Linked DNA regions of Homo sapiens: all the other regions are reported to be linked to region 6. The links are microRNA targets in miRTarBase. Many come from high-throughput screens and were not tested one by one. Region 6 holds a microRNA gene; each other region holds the end of a gene's coding sequence. Distances are between the middles of the regions.

What was found. Region 6 holds the annotated microRNA hsa-miR-6745 (UGGGUGGAAGAAGGUCUGGUU, at 1,514-1,534, opposite strand). A microRNA usually pairs through its seed, bases 2 to 8, with sites in the 3' UTR of a target mRNA and lowers its output. Matches are read on the target gene's strand: a 7mer-m8 pairs with bases 2 to 8, a 7mer-A1 pairs with bases 2 to 7 and ends in A, and an 8mer does both.
Region 1: the mRNA of ZNF445 is a reported target of hsa-miR-6745. Seed matches in the 3' UTR shown: 7mer-A1 at 1,828-1,834, 8mer at 715-722 and 7mer-m8 at 298-304.
Region 2: the mRNA of RETREG2 is a reported target of hsa-miR-6745. Seed matches in the 3' UTR shown: 7mer-m8 at 594-600.
Region 3: miRTarBase lists RAB5C as a target of hsa-miR-6745. Seed matches in the 3' UTR shown: 7mer-m8 at 3,024-3,030.
Region 4: the mRNA of ECSIT is a reported target of hsa-miR-6745. The part of its 3' UTR that is shown has no 7-base or 8-base seed match.
Region 5: miRTarBase lists PLEKHA1 as a target of hsa-miR-6745. Seed matches in the 3' UTR shown: 8mer at 1,641-1,648.
Region 7: the mRNA of ARL2 is a reported target of hsa-miR-6745. Seed matches in the 3' UTR shown: 7mer-m8 at 535-541.

What each region holds. Positions count from the first base shown.
Region 1 is chr3:44,443,195-44,447,258 of GRCh38, forward strand. It overlaps ZNF445 (zinc finger protein 445), which reads right to left. Exons shown (of 8, transcript NM_181489.6): 8 at 1-4,064. The coding sequence ends at 3,381. Among named protein-coding and RNA genes, the nearest start is that of LINC01988, 17 kb to the left of the region's middle.
Region 2 is chr2:219,182,166-219,186,222 of GRCh38, forward strand. It overlaps RETREG2 (reticulophagy regulator family member 2), which reads left to right. Exons shown (of 9, transcript NM_024293.6): 9 at 1-3,310. The coding sequence ends at 464. Among named protein-coding and RNA genes, the nearest start is that of RETREG2, 5.9 kb to the left of the region's middle.
Region 3 is chr17:42,122,148-42,126,201 of GRCh38, forward strand. RAB5C (RAB5C, member RAS oncogene family) reads right to left here. Exons shown (of 6, transcript NM_004583.4): 6 at 2,832-3,751. The coding sequence ends at 3,636. It overlaps HSPB9 (heat shock protein family B (small) member 9), which reads left to right and starts at 657. Exons shown (of 1, transcript NM_033194.3): 1 at 657-1,205. The coding sequence starts at 704. The coding sequence ends at 1,183. RefSeq lists an enhancer at 972-1,509.
Region 4 is chr19:11,502,752-11,506,815 of GRCh38, forward strand. ECSIT (ECSIT signaling integrator) reads right to left here. Exons shown (of 8, transcript NM_016581.5): 8 at 3,178-3,677. The coding sequence ends at 3,433. It overlaps ZNF653 (zinc finger protein 653), which reads right to left and starts at 3,088. Exons shown (of 9, transcript NM_138783.4): 1 at 2,737-3,088. The coding sequence starts at 3,035. RefSeq lists an enhancer at 2,184-2,253 and silencers at 2,404-3,073, 3,234-3,283.
Region 5 is chr10:122,429,720-122,433,783 of GRCh38, forward strand. It overlaps PLEKHA1 (pleckstrin homology domain containing A1), which reads left to right. Exons shown (of 12, transcript NM_001001974.4): 12 at 1-2,626. The coding sequence ends at 219. Among named protein-coding and RNA genes, the nearest start is that of MIR3941, 15 kb to the left of the region's middle.
Region 6 is chr11:47,178,102-47,182,165 of GRCh38, forward strand. MIR6745 (microRNA 6745) reads right to left here and starts at 1,636; the gene lies at 1,510-1,636. PACSIN3 (protein kinase C and casein kinase substrate in neurons 3) reads right to left here. Exons shown (of 11, transcript NM_016223.5): 5 at 2,354-2,589; 6 at 2,085-2,240; 7 at 1,310-1,485; 8 at 1,058-1,178; 9 at 793-929; 10 at 265-386.
Region 7 is chr11:65,021,427-65,025,490 of GRCh38, forward strand. ARL2 (ARF like GTPase 2) reads left to right here. Exons shown (of 5, transcript NM_001667.4): 5 at 295-758. The coding sequence ends at 429. All of the region lies in intron 3 of ARL2-SNX15 (ARL2-SNX15 readthrough (NMD candidate)), which reads left to right. Among named protein-coding and RNA genes, the nearest start is that of SNX15, 4.0 kb to the right of the region's middle.

The sequences.
Region 1 (4,064 bases), not on the chromosome of region 6:
GCATGGGGAAGGGACAGGAAAGCCAAATCCAACATTGATTCTGCCAAAATCTTTAGTAGTTAGCACCAAGTAGTCAGGCTTCTACTTTTTTTCCTTTCAGCTAATCTGAATTCATTAATATTTATATAATTATAGTACTTATAGAACTAAAATTATTTGAAAACTCAGGTTATTGGACAAATAGGTTCAGTATAATCCCAAATATAAACAGCTTACTTCAGGATAAAATAATTTCTGTTCTTTTGGCCGGGCACAGTGGCTCACACCTGTAATCCCAGCATTTTGGGAGGCCGAGGCGGGTGGATCACGACGTCAGGAGATCGAGACCATCCTGGAGATCGAGACCATCCTGGAGATCGAGACCATCCTGGCTAACACAGTGAAACCCCGTCTCTACTAAAAATATAAAAAATAACCCAGGCGTGGTGGCAGGCACTTGTAGTCCCAGCTACTGAGGAGGCTGAGGCAGGAGAATGGTGTGAGCCCAGGAGGCAGAGCTTGCAGTGAGCGGAGATCGCGCCACTGCACTCTAGCCTGGGTAACAGAGTGAGACTCCGTATCAAAAAAAAAAAAAAATTCAGTTTTTCACTTCATTCTTTGCACATTTTAAAATTTGATTAGAATGTTTAGAAATAAGCACATTTCATTCTATAAAAATGACAGGTCAGGCACAGTGGCTCACGCCTGTAATCCCAGCACTTTGGGAGGCAGAGGTGGGTGGATTGCTTGAGCCCAGGAGTTTGAGACCAGCATGAGCAACATGGGAAAAAAAAATAAAAGTTTTGTCTCTACAAAAAAATATAAAAAATTAGCTGGCAGGGTGGCACACACCTGTAGCCCCAGCTACTCGGGAGGCTCAGATGGGACCTGAGCCTGGGAGGTCAAGGCTGCAGTAAGCTGTGATCCTGCCACTGCACTCCACCCTGGGCAACCCTGTCTCAAAAAATAAAAAAGACAGTAAAAATATCCCTATACTGGGGCAGGAACTTTACAAGGTATCCTGTGGCAAAGGGAGCAGAGATGGGGGGAAAGGGGTGCTAAAAGTTTGATTGGAAAGGGACTTTTCCATGGTTACAACACCAACTGACATGGAAGCTGCACCTCTGAGAGGGCCCTGGTCCTAGAGGTCAACCACCTGATGGAGAGCCTTGGTAAACCAAGCCCTCTTTCACCAATCTCAGGAATCAGGTAGCACAGCCAAGCACTCTAACTTCACACATAAGGAAATTGATGCAGAGGTTCATTGACTTGCTCAAGATCAATCCTGCCAAGAAAAGGCACACCATGCCTGGAACCCAGATCTGATGACTCCAAGACCCTTCCTATGACTCTGGCCCCCCTGCCCAGCCACTTCTAGTGCCAGTTTTGGGACAGTGAAGGGACATCTTCAGTGCCATGAACAGCTGCTGCCGTAGGAAGGCAAGAGGATGGCAGAACCAAGATGACCAAACCTTCCTGAGGACAAAGCTGAACAGGCATCAGAACACCAACAGGAGACTTCTGCCCCGCCCCCACCATCCTGTGACACCACCACACAATATCAGAGCCTTCATTTTCACCTGCTCATGGCAATCCAGAGCAGGTAAGATTATTCCATACTCTACTGAAAAAGACATCTTCCAGGTTGGTTTCTTCTCATTTCAAGAAATGACCAGCTCCATGAACGGGCCCCTATAGTCAGGACACTGCTCTACTATTAAAACATTTTATCCTTTCATTCATAATCTGACCTCTTCAATAATCAGAAGCAATGATTACTCACATGCTTTAGCAATATCACTCCTTTGCCTTTAAGTAATTGATTCTTGCTTTTTGCTTCAACACAAGTGGGTGGGCCAGTGAGGGAGCTCCTCCCAGAACAGGCTGCCTTTTCTCCTGAGAGCAGCAGGCACATGCACTTGTTCCTTCGGGTTGAATCTGATTGCTAGCACCAGATCTCATACATGGAGAGGGGTATGTGAAGCTGAGAGGGGCCTGCAGTGTGCAGGGGCTAGAGACATGAACACAACAATGGTAAGCGTTTATATCTGCTGAGGCCGAGGATCCTATAGAAAATTCAGAAACGGAGTGGGGAGGAGTCTGATTTATGGGAACTGGCAGCAAGGCTAACTGCATGAGAAGCCTTTCACCCTTTTACTGAGTCCTTGGATCTGTGGTTAACCCTTATAAAATATAATTCAGATTCAAACCACATCACTCCTCAACTCAAAATTGTCCAAAAGCTCCCTGCCTCCCTCTGAGCCAGCTCAAGCCCCCGTAATGACCCATGATGCTCATATGGCCGGGCCTGTGGCCTCCCTGGCCCCTCTCCTTCCCTTCCAGCTGGCTCCCTGCACTCCATCCCAGGGGCTTCCTTCCTGAGGACACCAGTCAAGACCCAATCTCCTCTGCCTGCAACTCTCCCTAGAGAGCTACCTGCTACCTCCCTGGCTTCCTTCACGTCTTTGCTCACATTTCACCTTCTCAGTTGAGGCCCTCCCTGACCAGACTATCTAAAATCACGACTGATCTCCCAATCCAGCACTCCCTCTGCTCTTCTCTGATTCACTTTGTCCACTACACACATCACCATCCAGAATACTGCGTATCCCATTTGTTTGTCATCTGTAAAGATCCAAGATGGCAGGATTTTCATCTGTTCTGGTCCCTGCTGGGTCTCTGGCAAACACACCAGCGCCTGGTGTATGGGAGTGCTCAGCACATTTCTGTTAAACAGATGGACCGCTGCTGCCTATGCAGGCCTGTGGGATGGGGATGGCAACAGGGTACTGGTAGAGATCCACACGCCAAGCGCTTGAGCCCAGCATCCTGCTCTCCTCCACCTGCCGCTGAGACCACTCTAACCCCCTAGCAGATATCCAAAAGCCAGCCAGGAAGGCTGAAGCCCCAGCCAGAACTCCCCAGGGGGCATTTGGGAAGGCTAGGAGTTCTTGATGCTGCTGCTTTTAAAGTCAACAGAATAGGCATGGCCACAGGCCAAACTTGAAGACAAATCTAGGATCCCACTGGCCCCTTTCCAGCAGCCATAGCCCATGATGCCACAGATATTCTGTCCAACCACAAAGGGCAGTGGTCTCTCTCTTCAGAGTTGTGGAAGGAGACCTGAATAGGGGAGCCGCAGGCTATGGTGCAGAGGCCACTCCTAGGGGCCGGAGTCTCCAGAAGGGCTCCAAAGGACATGGTGCTGCACTTCCCCAGCGTCACATCCTAGCAGGCAGGCTGGGGACTCCCCGAGCTTTCAAATCCTTGGGATTCTGTCACTAGCTTCCAAAACAGAAAGGGCTGGGCCCTTTATCAAAGTTACTCCACAATGCCTATAATTAAGGGTTCTCTAGCAGGGGACTGAGAACCCACCCCCACTGTCACTGTCAGGTCCCAGGCTAATCTCTAATATGGTTTTTCATATGCCGAGCCAGGTTCGAAGACCACCTGAAGGTCTTTCCACACTTGCTGCATTTGAAGGGCCTCTCTCGAGTATGAAATCTCTTGTGGCTAATGAGTTGTGAACTCTTGTTAAAAGTTTTCCCACATATGCTGCATTTGTGGCACTTTTTCCCAATGCTTATGTCCTGGAGTCCAGTGAGCCTGGAGCTCTGGCTGCAAGCTTCTTTGCAGTCTTCGAGGGGCATCTCTTCACTTGGTTTTAGCTTCTGTAATCTCAACTTTGTGTCCTGAGAGGAAGACCGTGCAGGCGGGCTACGTTCAGCCTGTGCTGCTCTGGTGTGTTTCCTCTGGTGACTGGAAAGGGTATGTCTCCCAATGAACTCTTTCCCACACCACTGACATTTGAAAGGTCTCTCTGTAGAGTGGATCCTCTGATGGTTAACAAGGCGATAGTTTCTATCATAAGATTTCCCACATAGATTACATTTATAGCGCTTCTCTCCACTGTGTATTCCCTTATGATCTAAAAGGGTTCTTTTACGTGTAAAGGTTTTCCCACATTCTTGACACCAAAAACGTTTCTCACCAGTGAGGATTTTTGGCTCCACATTTGGAGTCTTTTCACTTTCATGGCAATCATACTGTTTTTGAAGAGAGTGAATCCTCTGATGTCGGTAGAG
Region 2 (4,057 bases), not on the chromosome of region 6:
AGGATGTGGCAGCTAAGGAAACCTTGTTGCGGCTCTCATCCCCCCTCCACTTTGTGAACACGCACTTCAATGGGGCAGGGTCCCCCCCAGATGGAGTGAAATGCTCCCCTGGAGGACCAGTGGAGACACTGAGCCCCGAGACAGTGAGTGGTGGCCTCACTGCTCTGCCCGGCACCCTGTCACCTCCACTTTGCCTTGTTGGAAGTGACCCAGCCCCCTCCCCTTCCATTCTCCCACCTGTTCCCCAGGACTCACCCCAGCCCCTGCCTGCCCCTGAGGAAGAAGAGGCACTCACCACTGAGGACTTTGAGTTGCTGGATCAGGGGGAGCTGGAGCAGCTGAATGCAGAGCTGGGCTTGGAGCCAGAGACACCGCCAAAACCCCCTGATGCTCCACCCCTGGGGCCCGACATCCATTCTCTGGTACAGTCAGACCAAGAAGCTCAGGCCGTGGCAGAGCCATGAGCCAGCCGTTGAGGAAGGAGCTGCAGGCACAGTAGGGCTTCCTGGCTAGGAGTGTTGCTGTTTCCTCCTTTGCCTACCACTCTGGGGTGGGGCAGTGTGTGGGGAAGCTGGCTGTCGGATGGTAGCTATTCCACCCTCTGCCTGCCTGCCTGCCTGCTGTCCTGGGCATGGTGCAGTACCTGTGCCTAGGATTGGTTTTAAATTTGTAAATAATTTTCCATTTGGGTTAGTGGATGTGAACAGGGCTAGGGAAGTCCTTCCCACAGCCTGCGCTTGCCTCCCTGCCTCATCTCTATTCTCATTCCACTATGCCCCAAGCCCTGGTGGTCTGGCCCTTTCTTTTTCCTCCTATCCTCAGGGACCTGTGCTGCTCTGCCCTCATGTCCCACTTGGTTGTTTAGTTGAGGCACTTTATAATTTTTCTCTTGTCTTGTGTTCCTTTCTGCTTTATTTCCCTGCTGTGTCCTGTCCTTAGCAGCTCAACCCCATCCTTTGCCAGCTCCTCCTATCCCGTGGGCACTGGCCAAGCTTTAGGGAGGCTCCTGGTCTGGGAAGTAAAGAGTAAACCTGGGGCAGTGGGTCAGGCCAGTAGTTACACTCTTAGGTCACTGTAGTCTGTGTAACCTTCACTGCATCCTTGCCCCATTCAGCCCGGCCTTTCATGATGCAGGAGAGCAGGGATCCCGCAGTACATGGCGCCAGCACTGGAGTTGGTGAGCATGTGCTCTCTCTTGAGATTAGGAGCTTCCTTACTGCTCCTCTGGGTGATCCAAGTGTAGTGGGACCCCCTACTAGGGTCAGGAAGTGGACACTAACATCTGTGCAGGTGTTGACTTGAAAAATAAAGTGTTGATTGGCTAGAACTGCTGCCTCCCTGACTGTGAGCTGCCTTCCACACCCTGCACTGCACTGTGTTCTCTCCTCACCCTTAACCTGCTTCACTCCAGTCTGTTCTGGCTGTTTATTACCTTGTTGCAAAACAGGGCCGAAGCAAGGATTACCTTGACAACCCTAGCTTCTCCTTAGCCATCTTCCTTGACAGTGTGATCTGTTTAGTGAGATTTAGCATGTGTGAATAAAGTATATGCAGGAGGAAATTGCTTTGTCTTCCCAATCGGTAGAAATTCGGGACCATAAAAATTGTGTTTTACCATGTGGCCTACAACCTTAACACTGCTTTCTTAAGAAGTCTTCACCCATCTACATGCTAACAACTCACTCAGCCTGGATTTATCTTTACTGGGGAAGCCAAACAAGCAATAGAGGACCTTTACCTGTGTTAGAAATGAGTTGGAGCCAAGGAACACTGAAGAAATAGTATCTTAACAGTTACTGAGTCCATTGTATGTGCTTGGCTCTGCTCTGAGTGATTTATATGTATTAAGATTTTTCCTCACAGGTCAGATATATACTGTTACTAACTTCATTTTATAGACAGGTTAAGCTTCCTGAAGGCCACAGGTCCCAGTAAATTGTGGAGCCAGAACCCAAACCCAAGAAGTTTTGGCTTCAGCAAATGCATCAGACAGCCCCTGTCCATTAATAGGGCACAGGTAGGAAGATGCACAAGGATGTGGGAACTATAGAGAACCAATCTGATGCCTTGGCTTAACAAAGAGTGGACATGGCAAGCCTTCCTCTTTGGGGAAGAAAAGCCCAGAACTGAGCAGATGGCCTCCTTTATGAGTTCATGTCCTCCGCCTTCAGCTGGAGGTACCATATGGCGATGCTACCTGTCTTTCTGCTGGAGGTACCATATGGTAATGCTGCCTGGCTGTCTGCTGGAGGTACCATATGGTAATGCTGCCTGTCTTTCTGAGGTTGACTTTTATGCCATGTCTTTCCTAAGTGTGTAAGAATTTTTCTGTTTGCTTCACATTTGACTGAGAATCATTCTAGGGTTTGATTGAGCCCCTGTCCTGTGCCACTAAAGGAACTCGAACTTTTCATCACTTAGAGATTTCAGAGGGGAATGGAAAAACAGTTCTAATCAATAAGCAAGCAATTCAAGAAAAATAGAATTAATCAGGCAATGACTGCAACATGTCCTATCTTTAATCTATTTTCTTATTAAGCTTGGACATTGACAATAGAACCAGAAGCTTGTAGCTGGATCAAAATATTCTCCATAGGCCTGGAGTTTCATGAGGGTCTATTCTTTTGTTGTTGTTGTTTTGGTTTTTTGTTTTTTGTGGGTTTTTTTTTTTTTTTTTTTGAGACGGAGTCTTGTTCTGTTGCCCAGGCTGGAGTGCAATGGTGCAGTCTTGGTTCACTGCAACCTCTGCCTCCCAGGTTCAAACAATTCTCCTGCCTCAGCCGTCCAAGTAGCTGGGATTACAGGTGCATGCCACGATGCCTGGCTATTTTTTGTATTTTTAGTAGAGGTGGGGTTTCACCATGTTGGCCAGGCTGGTCTCGAACTCCTGACCTCAGGTGATTCACCCACCTCGGCCTCCCAAAGTGCTGGGATTACAGGTGTGAGCCACGGCGCCCAGCCTCATGAGGGTCTATTCTTTACATTCACCATGGTCTGATGGTTGCTACATGTTTGTCTATGATTTTTTTTTTCTATTATCAGGTGTCTTGGCCGGTTCATGCCCCACGATGAAAGGGCCAGAGGTTTTCATATGAGTAAAAGAAAAAAGCAGAAATGTGAAACCTACAATTAGGCTAAACAAAAATCAACTGGAAAAGTACAGGCTGAGGGGAGAAGAGTTGGCTACATGTTTATGTTAGGGGAGGAGGGAGTACATTTTAGCTATGTATTCAAACAGCTAATAGTTTAATGTTGCTGCTTATAAACTTAATTTTAGGCTGCATTAATAAAAGTGTAGTCTCCAAAACAAGAAATGTGATAATTCTAGTGTCCTGTGCACGAATATCCTAATACTTCCAGAGGATGGCTTGCTAGGCTTGTGGGCAAATTGTAGTATGTCCAGGAGATGACTGCTAGAAATGAAGGCTGAAAATCATCATAGGACAAACTGTTGGAGGAACTGGGAATCTCTAATCCAAGAAGAGAGCTGAGTTGGTTCACATCAGCTGGCTTCAAACTTCAAAGGTTTGTCTGCAGGACTTCAGAGGGCAGATACGAGTTGAGTTTGGTTGATAATAGTGCTAGGTAGAATTTAATTTTCTAGTCAAGGGAATATTGCAAAGCAGATTTAAATGATCTGCAAAAGTATAATGATCAAGGGCGGTAATTCTAAGAATAATTCCAACATGGAAGGACAATATTATCACCATGTTTTGCTTTTAATGTCCAACTAAAGTCAGCTTGGACTTCTCTTCCTCTGTCTGCTCCCTTAAAAGTTGGTATTTTGGACCGGGTGCGGTGGCTGACGCCTGTAATCCCGGCACTTTGGGAGGCCGAGGCAGGCGGATCACAAGGTCAGGAGTTTGAGACCAGCCTGGCCTACATGGTGAAACCCCATCTCTACTAAAGTACAAAAATTATCCGGGTGTGGTGGCGCATGCCTGTAATCCCAGCTACTGGGGAGGCTGAGGCAGGATAATTGCTTGAACCCGGGAGGCGGAGGTTGCAGTGAGCCGAGATTGCACCACTGCACTCCAGCCTGGGTGACAGAGCGAAA
Region 3 (4,054 bases), not on the chromosome of region 6:
TCACCAAGAAGGCTACTGACGTGGAGGGTGAGGCGGAGGAGGGCTAGGTCTTTCTCTGTGCACTGGGAGCCACTCTCCTGAAGCCCCAACTGCGTCTTCATCTTTGTGGCCCCAGAGCCCAGACCACAGCCTGCAGCACAGGACGCCCCGGGAAGAATTAATGCAGCCGGAGAGACCAGTCCACCTCCTCGTGTCGCGTGTCCGCGTGGGGTTGTGGGTGGTCAGGGAGAGGTAGGGTGGATGACCCAGGAAGGCCGCCCTCCCCTGGCTCTGTCTAGGAACAATCCTTGCCCCAGGCCTGGTCCTTAGAAGGCAAGACAGCCCCCTTCCAGCTGGGGGATCAATCTGCTGTTGGCTGCGCCAGGGTGCGGCTCCCTCGGGTCTGGCCTGGTCGTGGATCCAGTTCCTTCACAGCTGCGGCCTCCCCGGGTCCATTAACGAAGGTGGGGAAGGGCGGAGAAAGGGTCGGAGTCTGGGAGGAGAGCAGCTGCGGGCGCGCCAGGGCGCTGACAGTCTGGCTCTTGGAGGTAAGATGGGCGTGGCTGATCCCGAACTCCGCCTGCGTTTGCAGAAGCGAAGGGAACCGAGCGAGCGGAGCTGAGCTCGGGTAGGCCGCGCGAGGTCCCTCCTCTCCGGGCGTCCGTGCGCCTAGCTCTGCGCTGGGAGCCTCGCGCCCTTTGACAGCAGTTAGTTGCTGACTCGGATGCAGAGAGTCGGTAACACCTTCTCCAACGAGAGCCGGGTGGCATCCCGGTGTCCCAGCGTGGGCCTTGCTGAACGGAACCGGGTGGCCACAATGCCGGTGCGGCTGCTCAGGGACAGTCCAGCGGCTCAGGAGGACAATGACCATGCCAGAGACGGTTTCCAAATGAAGCTGGATGCCCACGGCTTCGCCCCGGAGGAACTGGTGGTGCAGGTGGATGGCCAATGGCTGATGGTGACCGGACAGCAGCAACTGGACGTCAGGGACCCGGAAAGGGTCAGTTACCGCATGTCACAGAAGGTGCACCGGAAAATGCTCCCGTCCAACCTGAGTCCTACCGCCATGACCTGCTGCCTGACCCCCTCCGGGCAGCTGTGGGTCAGAGGCCAGTGTGTGGCGCTGGCCCTCCCTGAAGCCCAAACAGGACCGTCCCCGAGACTCGGGAGCCTCGGCTCTAAGGCTTCCAACCTGACCCGGTAAACAAACGACGCGATGTGCAGCAGCCTTGGTGTCCGTTGTCTTTTCTGGGGATGGAAGTCAGAGGTAGAGGGACTGGAGGCACAGGAGGCAGGAAAGGCACCCTCAAGGTGGTGGTCCACCAAGAATCAGGCCTCTGCGGGCAGATCACTTGAGGCCAGGAGTTCGAGACCAGCCTGGCCAACATGGTGAAACCCCATCTCTACTAAAAACACAAAAATTAGGCGTGGTGGTGTGTGCTTGTAATCCCAGCTGCTCGGGAGGCTGAGCAAGAGAATCGTTTGAACCTGGGAGGTGGAGGGAGGTTGCAGTGAGCCAAGATCCTGCCACTGCACTCCAGCCTGGGCCACAGAGTGAGACTCTGTCTCAAAAAAAAAAAAAAAAAAAAAAAAAAAAAATGCTGGGCGCGGTGGCTCACGCCTGTAATCCCAGCACTTTGGGAGGCCGAGGCGGGCGAATCACAAGGTCAGGAGATCGAGACCATCCTGGCTAACACGGTAAAACCCCGTCTCTACTAAAAATACAAAAAAATTAGCCGGGCGTGGTGGTGGGCGCCCGTAGTCCCAGCTACTCGGGAGGCTGAGGCAGGAGAATGGCGTGAACCCGGGAGGCAGAGCTTGCAGTGAGCCGAGATCGTGCCACTGCACTCCAGCCTGGGCAATAGAGTGAGACTCCGTTTCAAAAAAAAAAAAAAAAAAAAAAAAAAAAAGCCGACTGTGGTAGCTCACGCCTGTAATCCCAGCACTTTGGGAGGCTGAGGCGGGTGGATCACTTGAGGCCAGGAGTTTGAGACAAGCCTGGCCAACATGGTGAAACCCTGTCTCTACTAAAAATACAAAAATTAGCAGGGCGTGGTGGCGGGTGCCCGTAATTCCAGCTACTTGGGAGGCTAAGGCAGAAGAATCGCTTGAACCCAGGAGGTGGAGGCTGCAGTGAGTTGAGATAGCACCACTGCACTCCAGCCTGGGTAACAGAGACTCCGTCTCAAAAAAAGAAAAAAAAAAAAAAAGGGAATCAGGCCTCTGTGGCCCTGGGAGAAATTGGAGGAGAGTGTGGCCCTAGCTGAGCAGCAGCTCCAACAGGTAGCAGCAGAGAGCTGAGTGCCCAGACCTGATTCCAGAACCAGTAGAGAGCTGGACTGGGGCAACTTGGATGTGGTGTGGGGGGGTGACGTGGACAGAGGTGGTGAGGAAAGCCAGTGGCTACAGTCTTGGCCTTAAGACCAGTCCAGCGTTCCAGGGGCTGTTGGGATTCCTTCCTCTTCAGGAAGAGAGAGGATCCAGACCCTCTCACTGGTAAAGACCAACCAAAAAAAACCCAAAGAGGTTGTTTCTGGTGTTTCAGAGACTAATGATCATCAAATACACACTGCATGTCACCCCAGTATGATCTGGTAGGTGGGGGAGGGGAAGGGAGGTGGAGAAGTGAACACGGGCCCTGAAACTTCAAACTTGGTCAGCCCAGGTCAGCTACCTCATCGGAGCTGCTAACAGTAAGAGCCTCTTTCTCTTGGTTACCATGACCACCAGCATCCCCTCACATTAGAGGGGAAGATTTTGTTTAACAAGATTCAGTGGTTCATTTTAAATCAACTTCAACTACAGAGGGCACTGTCTGATAAACTGCCAGAGAAAGACAAGGAAGACAATTGTGAGGTCGATCGATCGGCTGACTATATTGACAAGATACTGATTGGTTACATGTTGAAGAAAACATACAATACAAAATACAGAAAAAGTTGGTTCCGTCCCCTCCCACTCCCCCCCTTACCCACCCACCCCCAAATACTCATCATCATGATTTGGTCAGAACAGGGCTCAGAGCCAGAGGTTGGGGTGACCGAGGGTGGAGGGGTTGTGGGCAATGGGTTCGTGGCTGTCACAATAATGCTGTGATAATGCTGTGGTTTCCCAGCAGGGAGGTGGGAGCGGGGAGGGGGCTGCAGCCTGATGAGAGCCAGCTGAAGGAAGAGCTGCCTCTCCCTTCCTAAGCCCCTTCCCAAGGTCTGCCCCACCGCCCAAACCAAAGACCACTCCGAACAAAGTGAGGATGTGGATGCTCTTGCTGGGTCCGCTGTTCCGCAGGAGGGAAAGAAAGGGTAGCTGCACTGACCCCACTGTCCCCATATACAAGGGTTGGGGGGCAAGAGCATGTGGCTACTCCCAGCAAGGGAAAATGGGAGAGCAGTAGAAAGGGGAGGAAGTGGGAAGAGCAGAAGATCATATATATTAAAAAAGTGACTTAAGACTTAAAATTGAATTAGTATTTGTACAGAAAGGTGCAGGTGGAATGACTCACTCCGGCCTATGATCAAAATTATATGGAGAAATCATGGTGGACCCCTCCCCCTGCCCCCCCAGTGGTGGCCCGAGTCGTTAAGTGCGATTGGTTAGAGTGGATTCCAGTCGGGTCATTCAGGCGGAGGAGGCGGGGGCAGCGGGCAGGCAAGGGGGGCTCAGTTGCTGCAGCACTGGCTCCGGCTGGCTGGGTTGTTCTCCTGGAGGTCCACACCTCGGTTTCGGCCTGGAGCACCAGTTGCATTCTGGGGCTCGTTCTTGGGAAGCTTCTTAGCTGTTTGGGAGGGGGAAAAGTGCATTTGTTGGGGGTACCCCAATAACTCTCCCAGTTCCACTGGAGCAGATTCTGGCCTTTATACCCAATCAGTGGTAACTCACATATTGAGGGCTTCTGTGTGTCAGGTGCATTCTGATTGTTTTCAGGAAACTGCGGCAAAGTAAGGTTAAATAACTTGCCCAAGACTACAGAGCTAATGAGTGGTAGAGCCAGGATCTGCAACCCAGGAAGGAAGATTCCAGAGCCAAATGAGCTAAAAACTCCTAGGCAGTGGGTAGGGGTAGTGATGGCAGGCTCTGA
Region 4 (4,064 bases), not on the chromosome of region 6:
CGCCGGGCGCAGTGGCTCACACCTGTAATCCCAGCACTTTGGGAGGCCGAGGCAGGCAGACCTCTTGAGGTCAGGAGTTCGAGACCAGCCTAGCCAACATGGCGAAACCCCGTCTCTACTAAAAATACAAAAATTAGCCGGGCATGGGGGTGCACGCCTGTAATCCCAGCTACTCGGGAGGCTGAGGCAGGAGAATCGCTTGAACGCGGGAGGCAGAGGTTGCAGTGAGCTGAGGCTGCGCCAATGTACTCCAGCCTGGGTAACAGAGCAAGACTCCATCTCAAAAAAAAAAAAGGTGGGGGGGGCATCAGGGGAAATAAAGGCAGACCATACCACTTCTTTCTCTGTACAAAATCTTGCACTTAAGAAAAGGCTCCCACCTCACTGGGAGGAAAAACTGGAGTCCTCTCCATGGCTCTGGATGACCTTCCCTGTCACCAATCTGTCCTTGTCTTCCCTTCTCCCCCTCACTCATTGCAGTCCAGCCACACAAGCCTCTTCAGTGTTCCTGGCACACAATAGGCAGGGTCCTGCCTCAGGACCTTTGCCTTTGCTATTCCCTCTGCCTCAACTCTTCCCCAGAGATCTGCATGGCTCCTCCTAGGTTCCTTCATGTCTTTACTGAAATGCTATCTTCTGAATGTGACCACCTTAACTCCCTATTTAAACTTCCAACTCACACTCTTCATTTCACTTTTGTTTTTTCCGTAGCCCCTATCTCTCATGGACGATACAATTTACTTATGTTTCTGGTCTGCAGTAAACAAGCCTTTTGCCAGGTATGGTGGCTCATGACTTTAATCCCAGCACTTCGGGAGGCTGAGGACGGAGGATCCCTTGAGCCGAGGAGTTCGTGACCAGCCTGGGCAACATGGCGAGACCCCCATCTCCATGAAAAATTAAAAAATTAGCCAGGTGAGGTGGCTCCTCTGTAGTCCCAGCTACTTGGGAGACTGAGGCAGGAGGATCCCTTGAGCCTGGGAGGTTGAGGCTGCTGTGAGCTATGAACATGCCACTGTACTCTGGCCTGGGTGACAAAGTGAGACCCTGTCTCAAGAACAAACAAACAGGGCTGGGCACAATGGCTTACACCTGTAATCCCAGCACTTTGAGAGGCTGAGGCCGGAGAATCACTTGAGCCTAGGAGTTTGAAATCAGCCTGGGCAACACAGGGAAACCTCTGTCTCTACAAAAAATACAAAAATTAGCCAGGTGGAGTGACGTGCACCTGTGGTCCCAACTACTCAGGAGGCGGAGGTAAGAGGATCACTTGAACCCACGAGGTTGAGGCTGCAGTAAGCCGTGATCATGCCACTGCATTCCACTCTGGGCGAGAGAGTGAGACCCTGTCTCAAAAAGAAAAACGAGGGCCGGGCGCGGTGGCTCACGCCTGTAATCCCAGCACTTTGGGAGGCCGAGGCGGGTGGATCACGAGGTCAGGAGATCGAGGCCATCCTGGCTAACAGAGTAAAACCCTGTCTCTACTAAAAATACAAAAAATTAGCCGGGCGTGGTGGCGGGCGGCTGCAGTCCCAGCTACTTGGGAGGCTGAGGCAGGAGAATGGCGTGAACCCGGGAGGCGGAGCTTGCAGTGAACGGAGATCGTGCCACTGCACTCCAGCCTGGGCGACAGAGCAAGACTCTGTCTCAAAAAAAAAGAAAAGAAAAGAAAAACGAACAAAAAAACCCCCCAGACCTTTGAACAAGCCATCCCCTCTGCCCACCAGAATGTCCGCTCCATGAGGCAGGTATCTTTGCGCTCCCAGCATTTCCAGTCCTGCTCTTGAGCATATAAGCCAGCCTGCTGTCCTGGGAAAGGGGTGGGTATAACTTAGCAGGATCTGTTTGATTCTTGACTCTCAGAATCTCCCCCCAGAGAAACATGAGAACATGTGTACCTGAAAACCAGGGCAGAACAAGGATTTCCTTGCGGCACTGCTTGTGATACGGAATAAACGTCATCCTCGTAAAAGTTAATACTTAGGGAACCCACTACCTGCCAGGCACTCTTCTAAGCTCTTTGCCTATTTTAACTCAATCATCACATCAACATATAAGGCAGGAAGGGAAAAACTCCATCCACACTGCTCCTTCTCAAGACTGAGAATTTACAAAGACAGGCCTCTCTGCCCTCCACCTGCCAAGCTAACTAGGGGTTTCCTCTTCATCCGAGTCTCCCTGGGCTGAGTTGCTTCACAGAAATAGGTTTAGGGGAGTGCAGTCCAGGTTGTGAAGGGTCCCCCGGATGTGTTGGATCTAGGGTTGTGGGAATGGGGCCATACGGAGTCCCAGATGGGGCACCAGAACTTCAAGAAGGGCAGGGCTGAGTGCCCCAGGGTGTCCAGAGTCCCAGGCCAGGTGGGGAACTAAGCGGGGGAGGATGAGACCGGTGAGGGGGCGGGGCTGCCCCCCCAGGGCCTGGTTAGTTACAAGGCCTGGAGGTGGGGCCAGTCCCAGGATTGGGCCGCCAGAGTTCTAGCGGGCGGGGCCAAGCGCTCAGAAGGCGGGTCGAGGGGCTGGGTGCACCCTAGGATTGGGCAGTCGGAACGATGGGAGGCGGGGCCACGAGCCAGGCGCGTCCCGGCCAGGCAGTACGAGACCCAGGCCGCCGGCCCGGCTCCTGGGCGGGGTCCGCAGGTGCCGGGGGCTGGCCCTAGAAGCGGAGGGGGCGGGGTAAAGCCCGGCGGGGTCTGGGGGCGTCTCCTCCCTCCCTCCCTCGGGGCCAGGCCCCCTCACCCGTGGCGGCCGCTCCGCTGGCCGCGCTCCAGAGAGATGAGGTAGGCGGCGAGCTTGGCGTCGCTCCAGCCGCTGCGGCGCCGCAGGTCCACCCAGGGCCCGTGCGCCTCGCCCAGGTACACGCGCCGCACGTCGTACTTCTTCCGGGACTCGAGCCGTCGCCGGGCCCGGTCCGACTCCGTGAGTCGCGGCCGGCCCCGCGCCTTTCGGCCCGCTGCGCCCTCCTCGGCTGCTGCCTCCCCGCCCGCGCCCGCCTCAGCCTCCGCCTCCGCCTCGGGCTCTAGCGCCCGCTCCGCCATCCCCCCCACCCTGGTTACCAGCCTCCCCCGTTGTTAGGAGCCAGACCGGAAGTGGCGCGCATCTTCGGCGCCGCCGAGAAATTTCTCACGGTCTCTCGCTGCCCCAGGGCGCCAAAAGGAGACCAAGAATGGAAACTGCGCATGCGCACAACCAACAGCGCTCCCGCCCCTTTTTATTTGAATTCGGAGAACCAGAGGCGCCTGCAGATTCTGGAGGGGTCTCGCCTGCCCATCGCTGGCAGCCCGAGATCCTGGGGAGGGGATGCCATACTGCTAGAGATGAGGGAAGAGAGCCCCAAGCAGGAAAACATTGATTTGCTGTACACTCAAAGGGCATCTCATGCCTTCAGTCCACCGCCTCCTCGGGCCACAGCCCGTGCCCTCGCGCCGGCTCAGACTAGCTCTGGCCCTGCTGCTGTCGCTGCAGGTTGTCGTCTTCTTCCTGGTGGTCCTCGGGCAGGGGCGGCTCCTCCAGCCCTGCAGAGGATGTCTGGAGCTCCCGGGTGGACCCGGCGAGGCGGAAGACCACGGGGATCTGGGCCAGGGTTGGGTTGGTCTCCTGCAGGCCCTGGATCCACTTAGCCATCGTCGCCTGGTCATGAGCACCCGCCATGCACATGGCGAAGACAGGGCCTTCCTCCACTGTTGGAAGACATGCACCCTTAAGGTTTGCACAGTGGGGGCTGCAGCGGCTAACCCATGCCTACACCTTTTTGAGGTATTTTACACTCCCTTCCACTTCCTTTTTTTTTTTTTTTTTTTTTTTGAGACGGAGTCTCGCTGTGTCACCCAGGCTGGAGTGCAGTGGCGAGATCTCGGCTCACTGCAACATCCGCCTCCCAGGTTCAAGTGATTCTCCTGCCTCGGCCTCCCGAGGAGCTGGGATTACAGGTGCACAGCACCACGCCGGGCTAATTTTTAAATTTTTAGTAGAGATGGGGTTTCACCATGTTGGCCAGGCTGGTCTCGAATTCCTGACCTCAAATGATCTACCCGCCTCAGCCTCCCAGAGTGCTGGGATTACAGGCG
Region 5 (4,064 bases), not on the chromosome of region 6:
TTGGTCTCAACCTTTACCATGGAGAAGCGAGGATTTTACGAGTCTCTTGCCAAGGTCAAGCCAGGGAACTTCAAGGTCCAGACTGTCTCTCCAAGAGAACCAGCTTCCAAAGTGACTGAACAAGCTCTGTTAAGACCTCAAAGTAAAAATGGCCCTCAGGAAAAAGATTGTGACCTAGTAGACTTGGACGATGCGAGCCTTCCGGTCAGTGACGTGTGAGGCAGAAGCGCACGGAGCCTGCCTGCCTCTGCCGTCCTCAGTTTCCTTTCATGAGGCTTCTAGCCAAAGATGATAAAGGGGGAAATGGTTTTTAGTGCGTATATTATACTGCCTCTTAGGTGTACTCTTTATAAGCTGGTAAACCAAGAATCTAGGGAGTGGCCAAACTAAATATAATTTCTTTAAAAAAGAAAGAAAAAGGAAAAATCCAAAATATCTCAGTATCATCTGTCTGAAGCATTGTGTGTTCTCATTCGGGTGGTAACAATGTATGTGTAATATTTTTTTCTTAGTGATTTTGACAGTTTAAATGTTTAACAACTTAAAGCATTAAAAATGCTTATTAATAACTTTGGTCATTTAAAAAATGCTACAATGACTTCCTATTAAAGGTTCAATATTTACACATTCTTATTGGTTGATATTACCACATGAAATATTGCCAGACCAAGATACCTAAACTCATGATGTCTGTGGTGCTGTAAAATTTATACTAAAATGTGGACTATTTTGAAATTATAACCATTTTTGATGCCCTGAATCTTGAGGTGACTTATTTTGCATAGAGGATATGGATAGACCAACAGTAAGGGTTGTGGGTTATACCGGCATAGAGAAAAGAAGAAAACTAGAATTGAAACAACTGTGTCTTAGACATTTGTTTGAAAAAGCTTCATCAGGCCTTGGAGCAGTCACTGCTTTATTCCGCAAAAATTATTTGGTAGGAAATTTTTGGGAGATCTGATTTTCTTATCCAAGTTTTGTAAATAGTTGTTATTTCTATATTTGGATTGGTGAAAGACCTCAAGTTTATATGTAAAGACATAACTGCCCTTAGTCATGAAATTGTTGTGACCTCTACTTTTTGTCACTAATAGCCTACATTCAAGTGCCTGTGTTTTTTCATCTTGTTTAGGAATGTTTTGAGATTAATGTGCTTAAAAGTCCTACGTGACTGATTTTAAACATTGTGATAAAATTAATTTTCAGTAGAATAGTTGAATGTGTTAAGATAGGATTTTATGTTAGAGATACCAGAATGCTGGTATTCTACTACTTGTGCAATATATATGTTTTAAAAAACAAATTTGAGAATACATTTAATCATAGGGATATAGATATAAGCACCTCTCTAAAGAATCTTTAGTTTCCGACGTTGAATTATAGACCAGTTTGAGTAAGTACTGCTTTTTTTTTTTGGAGACGGGCTCTCGCTCTGTTGCTCAGGCTGGAGTGCAGTGGCGTGATCTCAGCTCACTACAGCCTCCACCTCGTGGGTTCAAACAGTTGTGCTGCCTCAGCTTCCCGAGTAGCTAGGATTACAGGTGCATGCCACCACACCTGGCTAATTTTTGTATTTTAGTAGAGATGGGGTTTCACCATGTTGGCCAGGCTCGTCTCGAACTCCTGACTTCAGGTGATCCACCCATCTCAGCCTCCCAAAGTGCTGGGATTACAGGCGTGAGCCACCATGCCCGGCCCATAAGTACCGTTTTTGAGGTTCAGTCTTAAACATTTGCTTTAAGAAAACAGTCTTGAATTTCACATGCTGCTATTTTTATATTTTGCCATTTTACAGTACTGTTTTGTTTTGAATTCATGCATATCATTGAAAATTTCTCGTTTTCATTTTCTTAGATGACTTCTTGTCTGAGACAGAAAAATTTCCTACTACAGCAGTGCAGTCCAGAGGTTAAGATGTATTAGAATTATACAATATCAGTTTAAAAATCTGTATGCATAAAGAATGCACCACTCAACTTTTTTATTCATAAGCTAATATTTTTTTAAAGTTACATTAAGATTTTTTCTCTTTTGCAGCTACATTTGAAAGTGATAGAATAAAGAGATTTTAATGAGTTATCACTTTTTCAGCTGATATATTCATTTTAATGGCTTTTTTGAAAGTTCCTTTTTCATGAACACACCCGAGAAATCTTAAATAGACACTTTGCAATATTTAAGAACCTAATGCTGTTTAATTTTGGTACAGCTTCCACATTGCATGTTCACTTTAGTATTTGCAATTTGATATATTTCATGGTGGCAAAATATTAGCTCTGTTTTGGGACATTTTAAAATAGAACTATCCTTGTTCGATAGCATAGGAAAATGTTCTGGTGATTGTCAGGGTCTCCTAATATTTATCTCAATTCTTTTATAAGTCTATGGAAATTATTTAATTATTTTAAAACGTACACACTTTTCTTGTAAATATGTCACATCTGAGTTCAAAAAAATTACTTTGAATACCTTAATATTTGCTGCATTTTTTTCCGTATATATAACATGTCTTCTTTCAGAATGGGAATATATGTGTGCCTCCCAACATTTACTGTTAAAGTGTGTTATCTTTATATGTCAAACTGGTTGAACACTGTAATGAGAATAAACTGCACAGAGTTTATTCTGACTTATTTCTCATTTTGTTTGGTTCAGCCCTTGTGTGATGAAGTAAATACAATGATTAGGGGTGTGTTTGGTTAATTGACTTCAGTTTACATATTTAAGGACAGAGTAATTATTTGGTCATCTTTGCAAGAATAAGAAACTTCAGATCTGTGAATTCTTAATGCATCCCTGCATGTGAAATTATAGAAGGAAAAATGATTTTTTTTTGATAGGGGAAAGAACTTGCTTATTTTTCTTAATTAAAAAACATGTTCTCAAAAGCAGAATTATCATATGTTAGCCTCAGAGCATCGTGTGGATCATCTGGGCTGCTCACAGTGCTCCATGATTATTTAGACGGCATGATGTAAGGCGGAAAGCAGAGGGCATCTTAATCTCCGGGTGGGCAGTTGAGATGCACTCAAAAAACTATGTCGGGTGTTAGAGGCTGCTCCTTGCAAACGTTCCCTATTGGTGATAAATATTCCACGTCTGTTGCGGTGAACACCATATACAGGGCCTAGTGCAGTGCTTGGTGCACTTGGTAAAGCTTAAATACTTCTCCAGTGAGGACAAGGCATTACTGTAGAATGTGTGAACTTCCCACATTAGAGAAAAGTGTATACCTATTTGTTAGATAAATTGTACTTTTGAATTTCTGGAATATTCTTTCCTTAAAGCAACTTGCCTTCAATGATTCGAGATACCTTCTTTTGCTTGTTGTGTCTAATCCATTGTCAGATCCTGCTGCTTTTCCCTGGCATGTTCATACCTTGTTCTCTGAAATTCAGCCGGGAATGACTTTGAACCAGTATGTCTGCTCACCTATTCATGTCCTGTTGGGGCTCTCCTGGACTACCCTATTCCTGTCATTGTGCAGAGTAGGTATCAAAGTAGACATCTTCATCTGTTGCCTTTTCCTGAAAAGCTGAATGACGACTTAAAGATCAGCTAGGCCAAGCCCCCACCATCAATGCTAACTGAGATAAATTGAGACCCCAGAAAGGAGGAGGATTTGCCTGGCCCATGGGGCACGTTAGCAACGAAGCTGTAACTGTTGGCTTCTCACTGTACTTGGGAGCATCATTAGGATCTGTGCCCAGGGTGTAGCTAGAGTAATCCAGCCAAATATACCAGGTTGCTTCCTAATAACCTATGGCATTCCGCACCTCCTCTCCAAAACACATAGGCTTAGTGTTCTTTTTTTTTTTCTCAGTCTTTTTCTGAAGGCCATTTGTTGTGTGAAATGGCTTTCTTCATCTTAGACCTTCAGATCTCTGTTGAATCAAGTGACTTGTGAATGTCTAGCCATGCAACAGCAGCTCACGTACTTCCTGTGTGTGTTCTAATATGCTGCTGCTACAAATGGATGGAATACATTGTCCTAGAATGCAAGGACCTTGAGGTTTGTGTCTGCGTTTCACCTGTTAGGTTTTCTGTAGTTCTGTTAGACG
Region 6 (4,064 bases):
CAACTGGGTCAAGGACTGAGGGGGATGGTGTGGTCCCAGAGCCCAGCTAGCAAAGACATGGCTCAGGCAGAGGCAGGTCAAGGTCAGCAAGCTGCCCCACCCCAGACCCTGAATGCAGCCACCAGGCACCAGCTATCTGGACCTGGAACAGCTGAAGGGACAGAGGACTGGCCCTTAAGAAGTGGGTATTTGGCTTCCCTTTCTGACACCCCTGCTCAGGCAGATAAGGCAGAGGCTGAAGCTAGGAAAGGGGTCCCAGGGTACCTGCTCGGAAGCTCAGCTCATCAGCTTCCTGGCCAGCGTAGTCATAGAGTGCCCTCACCCGAACCCCGGTGGCAGCCTTCCGGGGACTCTCTTCATCTGACCACTCCTCATCCTGCCCCGTGCTGGAGAGGGGAGGCAAAGGGAGCAGCTCAGAGTGCAAGGAACACGGGGCTGGAGATCTCACCCAGGATCAGGGCAAAGGCCTCCCTACCCCCAGAGGCACCTGGGAGAGTCAGGTGAGGTACTAAAGATTCTAGCTCTACCTCGCCATGCCCGACTGTGAGCAAAGAGGCAATTCCTGCCACACGCAGCTGATTTAAGGCATAAACGAGAGGGAATGTGGGAAATGCCCAGCAAATCTAAACCACTATGAGAACCAGTATCATTACAACTACTAAGTAGGCCCTCAGGTCCCTGGCACCAATTTTCAACCCATTTCAGGTGTGAAAGAAATGAAACCAAGGAGAAAGGAAAGGAGGGCGGGAGGCAGAGCTGTTTCTTTGCCACAGCCGCGCTCCTGGCTCTCACCCTGGGGACCCCGGGGACTGGGGTGGGGGTGCGGTGCCATCTCTTGTAGGCACAATGCTGGTCAGGGTAACCTCATCAGGGCTCCGGCCACCCTTCTCTTTCCGGCTGATTGTCCTCTGTGTGTCCAAGGACCACTCCTGTGGGGACAGTGCTTATAGTCAGGTGGGGCCATCTGAACCACCTTCACTTACTTCATCCCTAGCCCTGGCCGAGCTGAGTGGGAGCCCATCCCACCTCCCATCCCCACCCCGCCTGGAACACATGCCTCGAACTGTGGCCAGTTCATGGCCATGCCTGGCCCGTGGGTGCTGCGCCACCAGCGCAGATCCTCTTCGTCACTGGCTGCCTCAATGCCCTGGTGCAAGTCACGGTGGAGTTCATGGAACCTATGACCCAAGGCACACCCCTCAGTCTAGGAAGTCTAGACCCTGCATCCCTCAGTCCCAGCCAGGGCCTCGGGGAGATGGAGGAGACCCAGTACTACCCCAGATCTCCATGCCCACCAGGCAGTTCATACTTCTCACTGCTGGAAAGGTCCAGGTGCTGGTGTAAGGTGAGCAGCATATCCTTGAAGAAAAGAAGCCGCTGGCGCTCGGCGGCCTGGCAGGTCTCAAAGGCCTGTTCCATGTCCTCCATGTAGCGTGGAGTGTAGCGATGCAGCTCTGCCAGCGTCTGCTCATACTGAGCTTTTGTCTGGGTGGGAGAGGAGGGGCCTGGTGAGAACCAGACCTTCTTCCACCCAGGACTCCACCAGTGTTTACCAGACACTGCCATAGGCTGCTAGACCCAGGGCTAGCCACTAGGGGCAATCAGTCCCAAGACCCAGCTCCTGCCCTCAAGGACCCCAGCAGCCTAACAAGGGAGGTGACATCAGGCACAGCATATAAAAGAGTCTGGTGAGGATTGAAATGAGGTCAACCTACAGGAAAGGATGGGAGAAATCAGAAAAGGCTTCCTGGAGGAGGTGGAAACTGCAGCATCTCAGGATGGGGAGGATTTGCATATCCAGAGCTGCAGGAAAGGACACTTCGGGCAAAGGGTACTGTGCAAGGAAAAGAGCTGGAAGTTCTCAACTGCTGAAGTCATCCCAGTGCCTGAAACTCCATTTCTTTCCCTAGTAAAGCATCACCTTTTGTCAGGTTCCTCCTTTAAATGATCATCTGGAGAGAGGGTGGCAGGTGAGGAATAGGGTAATAAGGGTGCTGGGGACTGGACAAGATGTTCAGGGAGCAAGATTCATTCAGGAAGCCGTGCCCTGGGCGGGGGCCAGGGCTGGGACCTGTGGCCTGTACCTTCTCGGCCTCCTTGGCACAGCGTTCCACCCGTTCCTGCAGTTTGCGCAGCTGCTCCTGGGAGACGGCGCTGTCTGCCTTTGCGTGGCTCTCCCTCGTCTGGGCGGTCTTCTCATCCTTCCGGGCTGCGTGGTAGCTTTTCTTGGAAGCCTCAACCTGGCATGCATGGAGACCACTCTGGACCCTGGATGCCACACCTTGGCCCCCTCGATCCCTTGCAAACAAACAGGAAGGAGCCTGTCTCGGATACCTCCCCCACCCAGCCTCACCTCCTTCAGCCTCTTCAGCCAGGGCTTCTGGGCCTTGCGGAAGCCGTCCTCGGCCGCCCGGCTCTCGCGGAAGCCGCCCAGCACAGGCCGGTGGAAAGCCCCCCGCTGCCAGGCGCGCACCCGCTCACTGTCCTGCCCTTGCAGCTTCTCCCGCACCTCCAGGTGCAGCGCGCTCAGCCGCTCAGCCGCCGTGAAAAAGGCATGCCAGGCCTTCTCCAGTGTGCCATACTGGGGGCCTGCAGGGAGGGACAGGGCTTAGGCCAGGCCTGGGTACCACCCAAAATGAGCCTAGCCCCTCTCACTGGGTGTGAGGCATGGAGGCATGGGGTACGCGCATGGGGTGCAAAGGTGAATGACAACCCTGTCAGCTGGGCTTATTGAATGAGGACCATGTGCCTTATCTCACTGACTCCTTGTCTCAGCCACCATCGTGAGGACAGCGACATTGCCAACATTGAACAGGCAAAACACTGAGGACCAGAGATGTGAACTCGCCCAAAGCATTATGGCTACAACAGGAGCTGAGGGCCGGGCACAGTGGCTCACTCCTGTAATCCCAGCACTTTGGGAGGCCAAGGCGGGTGGATCACAAGGTCAGGAGATCGAGACCATCCTGGCTAACACGGTGAAACCCTGTCTCTACTAAAACTACAAAAAATTAGCCGGGCATGGTGGCGGGCGCCTGTAGTCCCAGCTACTTGGGAGGCTGAGACAGGAAAATCACTTGAACCCGAGAGGGGGAGACTGCAGTGAGCTGAGATCACGCCGCTGTACTCCAGCCTAGGTGACAGAGCGAGACTCTATCTCAAAAAAAAAGAAAAAAAAGAGGAGCTGAGATTCAAACCCATCTCTGTTGTGTAAACACTACACTCCATTGCCTCAAAGGAAGAGCCTGTGTGTGCCCTCGAGGAAGACAGCTTGCAGGGTGGAAAGATCCATGCTCCCAGTCAGAGGGCCTGGGCTCAACCTTCAGCACTTCCTAGCTGTGTGCCTTTAGGCAAGTCCCTTAGCCTCTCTGAGCTTCCAGTTTCTCCTCTAGAAAATGCATAAAACAGGCCCAGGTGCGGTGGCTCATGCCTGTAATCCAGGCCGGGCACGGTGGCTCACGCCTGTAATCTCAGCACTTTGGGAGGCCAAGGAGAAAGGACCGCTAGAGCCCAGGGGTTCAAAACCAGTCTGAGCAACATAGCAAAACCCTATCTCTACAAAAAATACAAAAATTAGCCAAGTGTGGTGGTCCATGCCTGTGATCCCAGCTATTGTGGTCCCAGCTATTCAGGAGGCTGAGGTGGGAGGATCAGTTGAGCGTGGGAGAGGGAGAGGTTGCAGTGATCCATGATTGTACCACTGCACTCCAGCCTGGTGACAGAGTGAGACCCTGTCTCAAAATAAATAAATAATAAACAAAGGAAAGAAGGCCAGATGCAGTGGCTCACGCCTGTAATCCCAGCACTTGGGGAGGCTGAGGTGGGTGGATTACCTGAGGTCAGGAGTTTGAGACCAGCCTGGCCAACATGGTAAAACCCCGTCTTTACTAAAAATACAAAATTAGCCAGGCGTGGTGGTGGGTGCCTGTAATCCCAGCTACTTGGGAGGCTGAAGCAGGAGAACCACTTGAGAGGCGGAGGTTGCAGTGAGCCAACATCATGTCACTGCACTCCAGCATGGGCAACAAGTGCAAAACGTCTCAAAAAAAAAAAAAAAAGAAAGG
Region 7 (4,064 bases), 18 Mb from region 6:
AGAGAGGGTGTGTGGGGCTCCTAGCACGATGCCCGGATCCTGGTGGATGCTCAGGAGCCCATGCTGCATTTACATCACTAAGGGGCAGCACTGGCATGGAACTGGACAGAGAGCCCAGGTGCCCCTGGGGTCTGACAAACTCTCCCTGGGACCGGCGGGGCTTCCTGGATGGGATGACATGGAGCAGGGCCTTGAGGAAGGCGTGGAGTTCCTCTGGGCTGGGGAGGGAAGGGGCTGACGGCAGGCAGGGTCTGCAGTCACTGGCCACCACCATCAGCACCTTTGTCCTCCCAGGTCCTGGAGCTGGACTCCATCCGCAGCCACCACTGGTGCATCCAGGGCTGCAGCGCCGTCACCGGGGAGAACCTGCTGCCGGGCATCGACTGGCTCCTGGATGACATTTCCAGCCGCATTTTCACAGCTGACTGAACCACTCCAGATGCCCCCCACCTAGCAGTCCAGGTCCCTCAACCTTCACCAAACACTACCCATGGGGGGTTGGGAGTCAGCCGGCCAAACTAACACTCCCCCTCCTCCACCCCAGCCTGCTGCTGCTACTGCTGCCCGCTGCTGCTCTGTGGCCACCCGGCTCCCATGGCGGGAGGGCTGTGCCCTGGCTGTCTCTCTGGCTCCTGACCTGGCCTTTGGCTACCATACCAAGAAGAGAGGGCTGGGCGGGGAGGAGCTGCTACTGCTGCTACCGAGGCTGTGGGCCTCATCCTTCACTCAGTTGTGAAATAAACCGCTCCTTGCCCCGATTCCTGGCTGAGTCATTTGTTGATTCAACAGCGTTAGAGACCACCTGGGACCCTCAATCTAGCAGGGGACAGAAAGGAATGGATCATTGGAGTCGATGGTGAACTGTGGCTATGTCAAAGGGATGCAGAAAAAGTTATAGAAGCATGGGACACGGTGCAACTGATTCCATCTGCAGGCTTCCTAAAGGAGGTCACATTAAAGCTGGGAGTAAAGCGCGAGTAGTTTTCTAGGTAGAGGAAGGGGAAGACAGTTCACCAGGGGAAATCCAACTCTCATAGGTATGAATTAGAAAAACAGACACAGCTGCAGACCAGGGCTCCAACTTTTTGCATGGAACATGGGCTGAAATTCAGCTCCCAATTCTCTGTTGCAGCCAGGAACCCATGTGCAGTGGACAACCTGAACAGCTGTACAAGGCCAGCACAGATTCAGGCAGAGGGGATCACAGGACAGGCATGATGAGCAAGGGCTCCGGCTGGGCGCGGTGGCTCACCTGTAATCCCAGCACTTTGGGAGGCCAAGATGGGCGGATCATGAAGTCAGGAGATCAAGACCATCCTGGCTAACACGGTGAAACCCCGTCTCTACTAAAAATACAAAAAATTATCCGGGCGTGGTGGCGGGCGCCTGTAGTCCCAGCTACTCGGGAGGCTGAGGCAGGAGAATGGCGTGAACCCGGGAAGACGGAGCTGGCAGTGAGCCGAGATTGCGCCACTGCACTCCAGCCTGGGTGACAGAGCGAGACTCTGTCTCAAAAAAAAAAAGCAATGGCTCTTGGGAAATGGGGAGGTGCATAGAGTCATGTGTAGGAGAGAGTGCAGCCAGAGGGTGGGAGGGGGGCCACATCAGGCAGGGGTAACTGAGGCCTTCCCTGAAGGCTACAGGAACTCAGAAGCAGTGCCAGGTTGGGAAAGGATAGGAAATGAGGCCACCCCAGGGGTCCAATCCAAGTGGCAAAACTGGCAGATGTTTTCATGGCACAGGGTCCTAGCAGCTGCTTACTCTGCAGGGTTCTGTGTGAAGGGGTGGCCTGTCCCTCCACACCTGTGGGTATATCTCGTCAGGTGGGACGAGAGACTGAGAAAAGAAATAGGACACAAAGTATAGAGAAAGAAAAGTGGGCCCAGGGGACCGGCGCTCAGCATACCAAGGACCCACACTGGGACCGGTCTCTTAGTTTCTTCAGTTTTTATTGATTATTACTTTCACTATCTCAGCAAGAAGAATGTGGTAGGAGAGCAGGGTGATAATAGGGAGAAGGTCAGCAAAAAAACGTGAGCAAAAGAATCTGTGTCATAATTAAGTTCAAGGGGAGGTACTATGCCTGGATGTGCACGTAGGCCAGATTTATGTTTCTCTCTGCCCAAACATCTCAGTGGAATAAAGAATAACAAGGCAGCATTGCTGCCAACATGTCTTGCCTCCCACCATAGGGCGGTTTTTCTCCTATCTCAGAATTGAACAAATGTACAATCTGGTTTTATACCGAGACATTCAGTTCCCAGGTGCAGGCAGGAGATAGTGGCCTTCCTCTATCTCAAGTGCAAGAGGCTTTCCTCTTTTACTAACCCACGTCAGCACAGACCCTTTATGGGTATCGGGCTGGGGGACGGTCAGGTCTTTCTCATCCCACGAGGCCATATTTCAGACTCTCACATGGGGAGAAACCTTGGACAATATCCGGCTTTCCAGGACAGAGGTCCCTGCAGCTTTCCACAGTGCATTGTGCCCCTGGTTTATTGAGACTAGAGAATGGCGATGACTTTTACCAAGCATACTGCCTGTAAACATTTTGTTAACAAGGCACGTCCTGCACAGCCCTAGACCTTAAACCTTGATTCCAAGGCCGGGCGTGGTGGCTCACGCCTGTAATCTCAGCACTTTGGGAGGCCGAGGCAGGCGAATCATGAGGTCAGGAGATTGAGACCATCCTGGCTAACACGGTGAAACCCCGTCTCTACTAAAAATACAAAAAATTAGCCAGGTGTGGTGGTGGGCGCCTATAGTCCCAGCTACTCGGGAGGCTGAGGCAGGAGAATGGCATGAACCCAGGAGGCGGAGCTTGCAGTGAGCCGAGATGGCGCCACTGCACTCCAGCCTGGGCGACAGAGCGAGACTCCATCTCAAAAAAAAAAAAAAAAAACACCTTCATTCCATACAACACATGTTTTTGTGAGCTCAAGGTTGGGGCAAAGGGGTTGGGGCAAAGTGGCTGGGGCAAAGTTACAGATTAACAGCATCTCAGGGCAAAGCAATTGTTCAGGGTACAGGTCAAGATGAAATTTCTTCTATCTTCCCTTTCTACATAGATACAGTAACAGTCTGATCTCTCTTTTCCCTACACTGTTCTAAGTACTACCCATTCCATTCAGCAATACAGTTAGGGACAGCCCTATGCAGTGCCGCCTATCAGGATCCTCTCTTATATGGGACACTAAGGGGTGGCACTGGCGTGGCACTGTACAGAGAGCTCAGGTGCCCCGGGGAACAGATAAGCTCTCCCAGGGGCCGGGGAGGCTTCCTGGATGGGCTGACCCTTGAGCAGGGAGGGAAGGGTCTGCGGTCACTGGCCACCACCAGCACCTTTGTTCTCCCAAGCCCTGCATCTGGACTCTCTGCAGCCACCACTGGTACGTCAAGGGCTGCAGCCCCACTGCTGGGGAGAACCCACTGCCTGGCATTGACTGGCTCCTGGATGACATTTCCTCCAGAAGGTTAAGTGCAATCTCTGCCTGCCGGGTTCAAGCAACTCTCCTGCCCCATTCTCCCGAGTAGCTGGGATTATAGGCACCCGACACCACACCTGGCTAATTTTTGTATTTTTAGTAGAGATGGGGTTTCATCATGTTGGCCAGGCTGGTCTTGAACTCCTGATATCAAGTAATCCGCCCGACTTGGCCTCCCAAAGTGCTGGGATTACAGGCATGAGCCACTGCACCTGGCCCCCAGCTAATTTTTAAATTTCTCATGAAATCAGAGGCAGCCTGTTGCCCAGGCTGGTCTTGAACTCCTGGCCTCAAGTGATCCTCCCGCCTTGGCTTCCCAAAGTGCTGGGATTACAGGCATGAGCCCCATGCCAGGCTTTGCTTCTTTCTGAAGACCAAGGCACCGCACCTGTACACCTGAATTCCAGGAACAAGAGTGGCTATTCACAATGCTTCCTCTGCAGTAAATACTATGTGTTGTATGTAAGCCTACCAACTTCATGCTGCATTTCAACAGATTTTTGCTTCAATTCTAACACTGACTGGAGCAAAGGTCTCAAAACCCATGCCAGGTTTGGGAACACCAGTCTCCACGTGGCC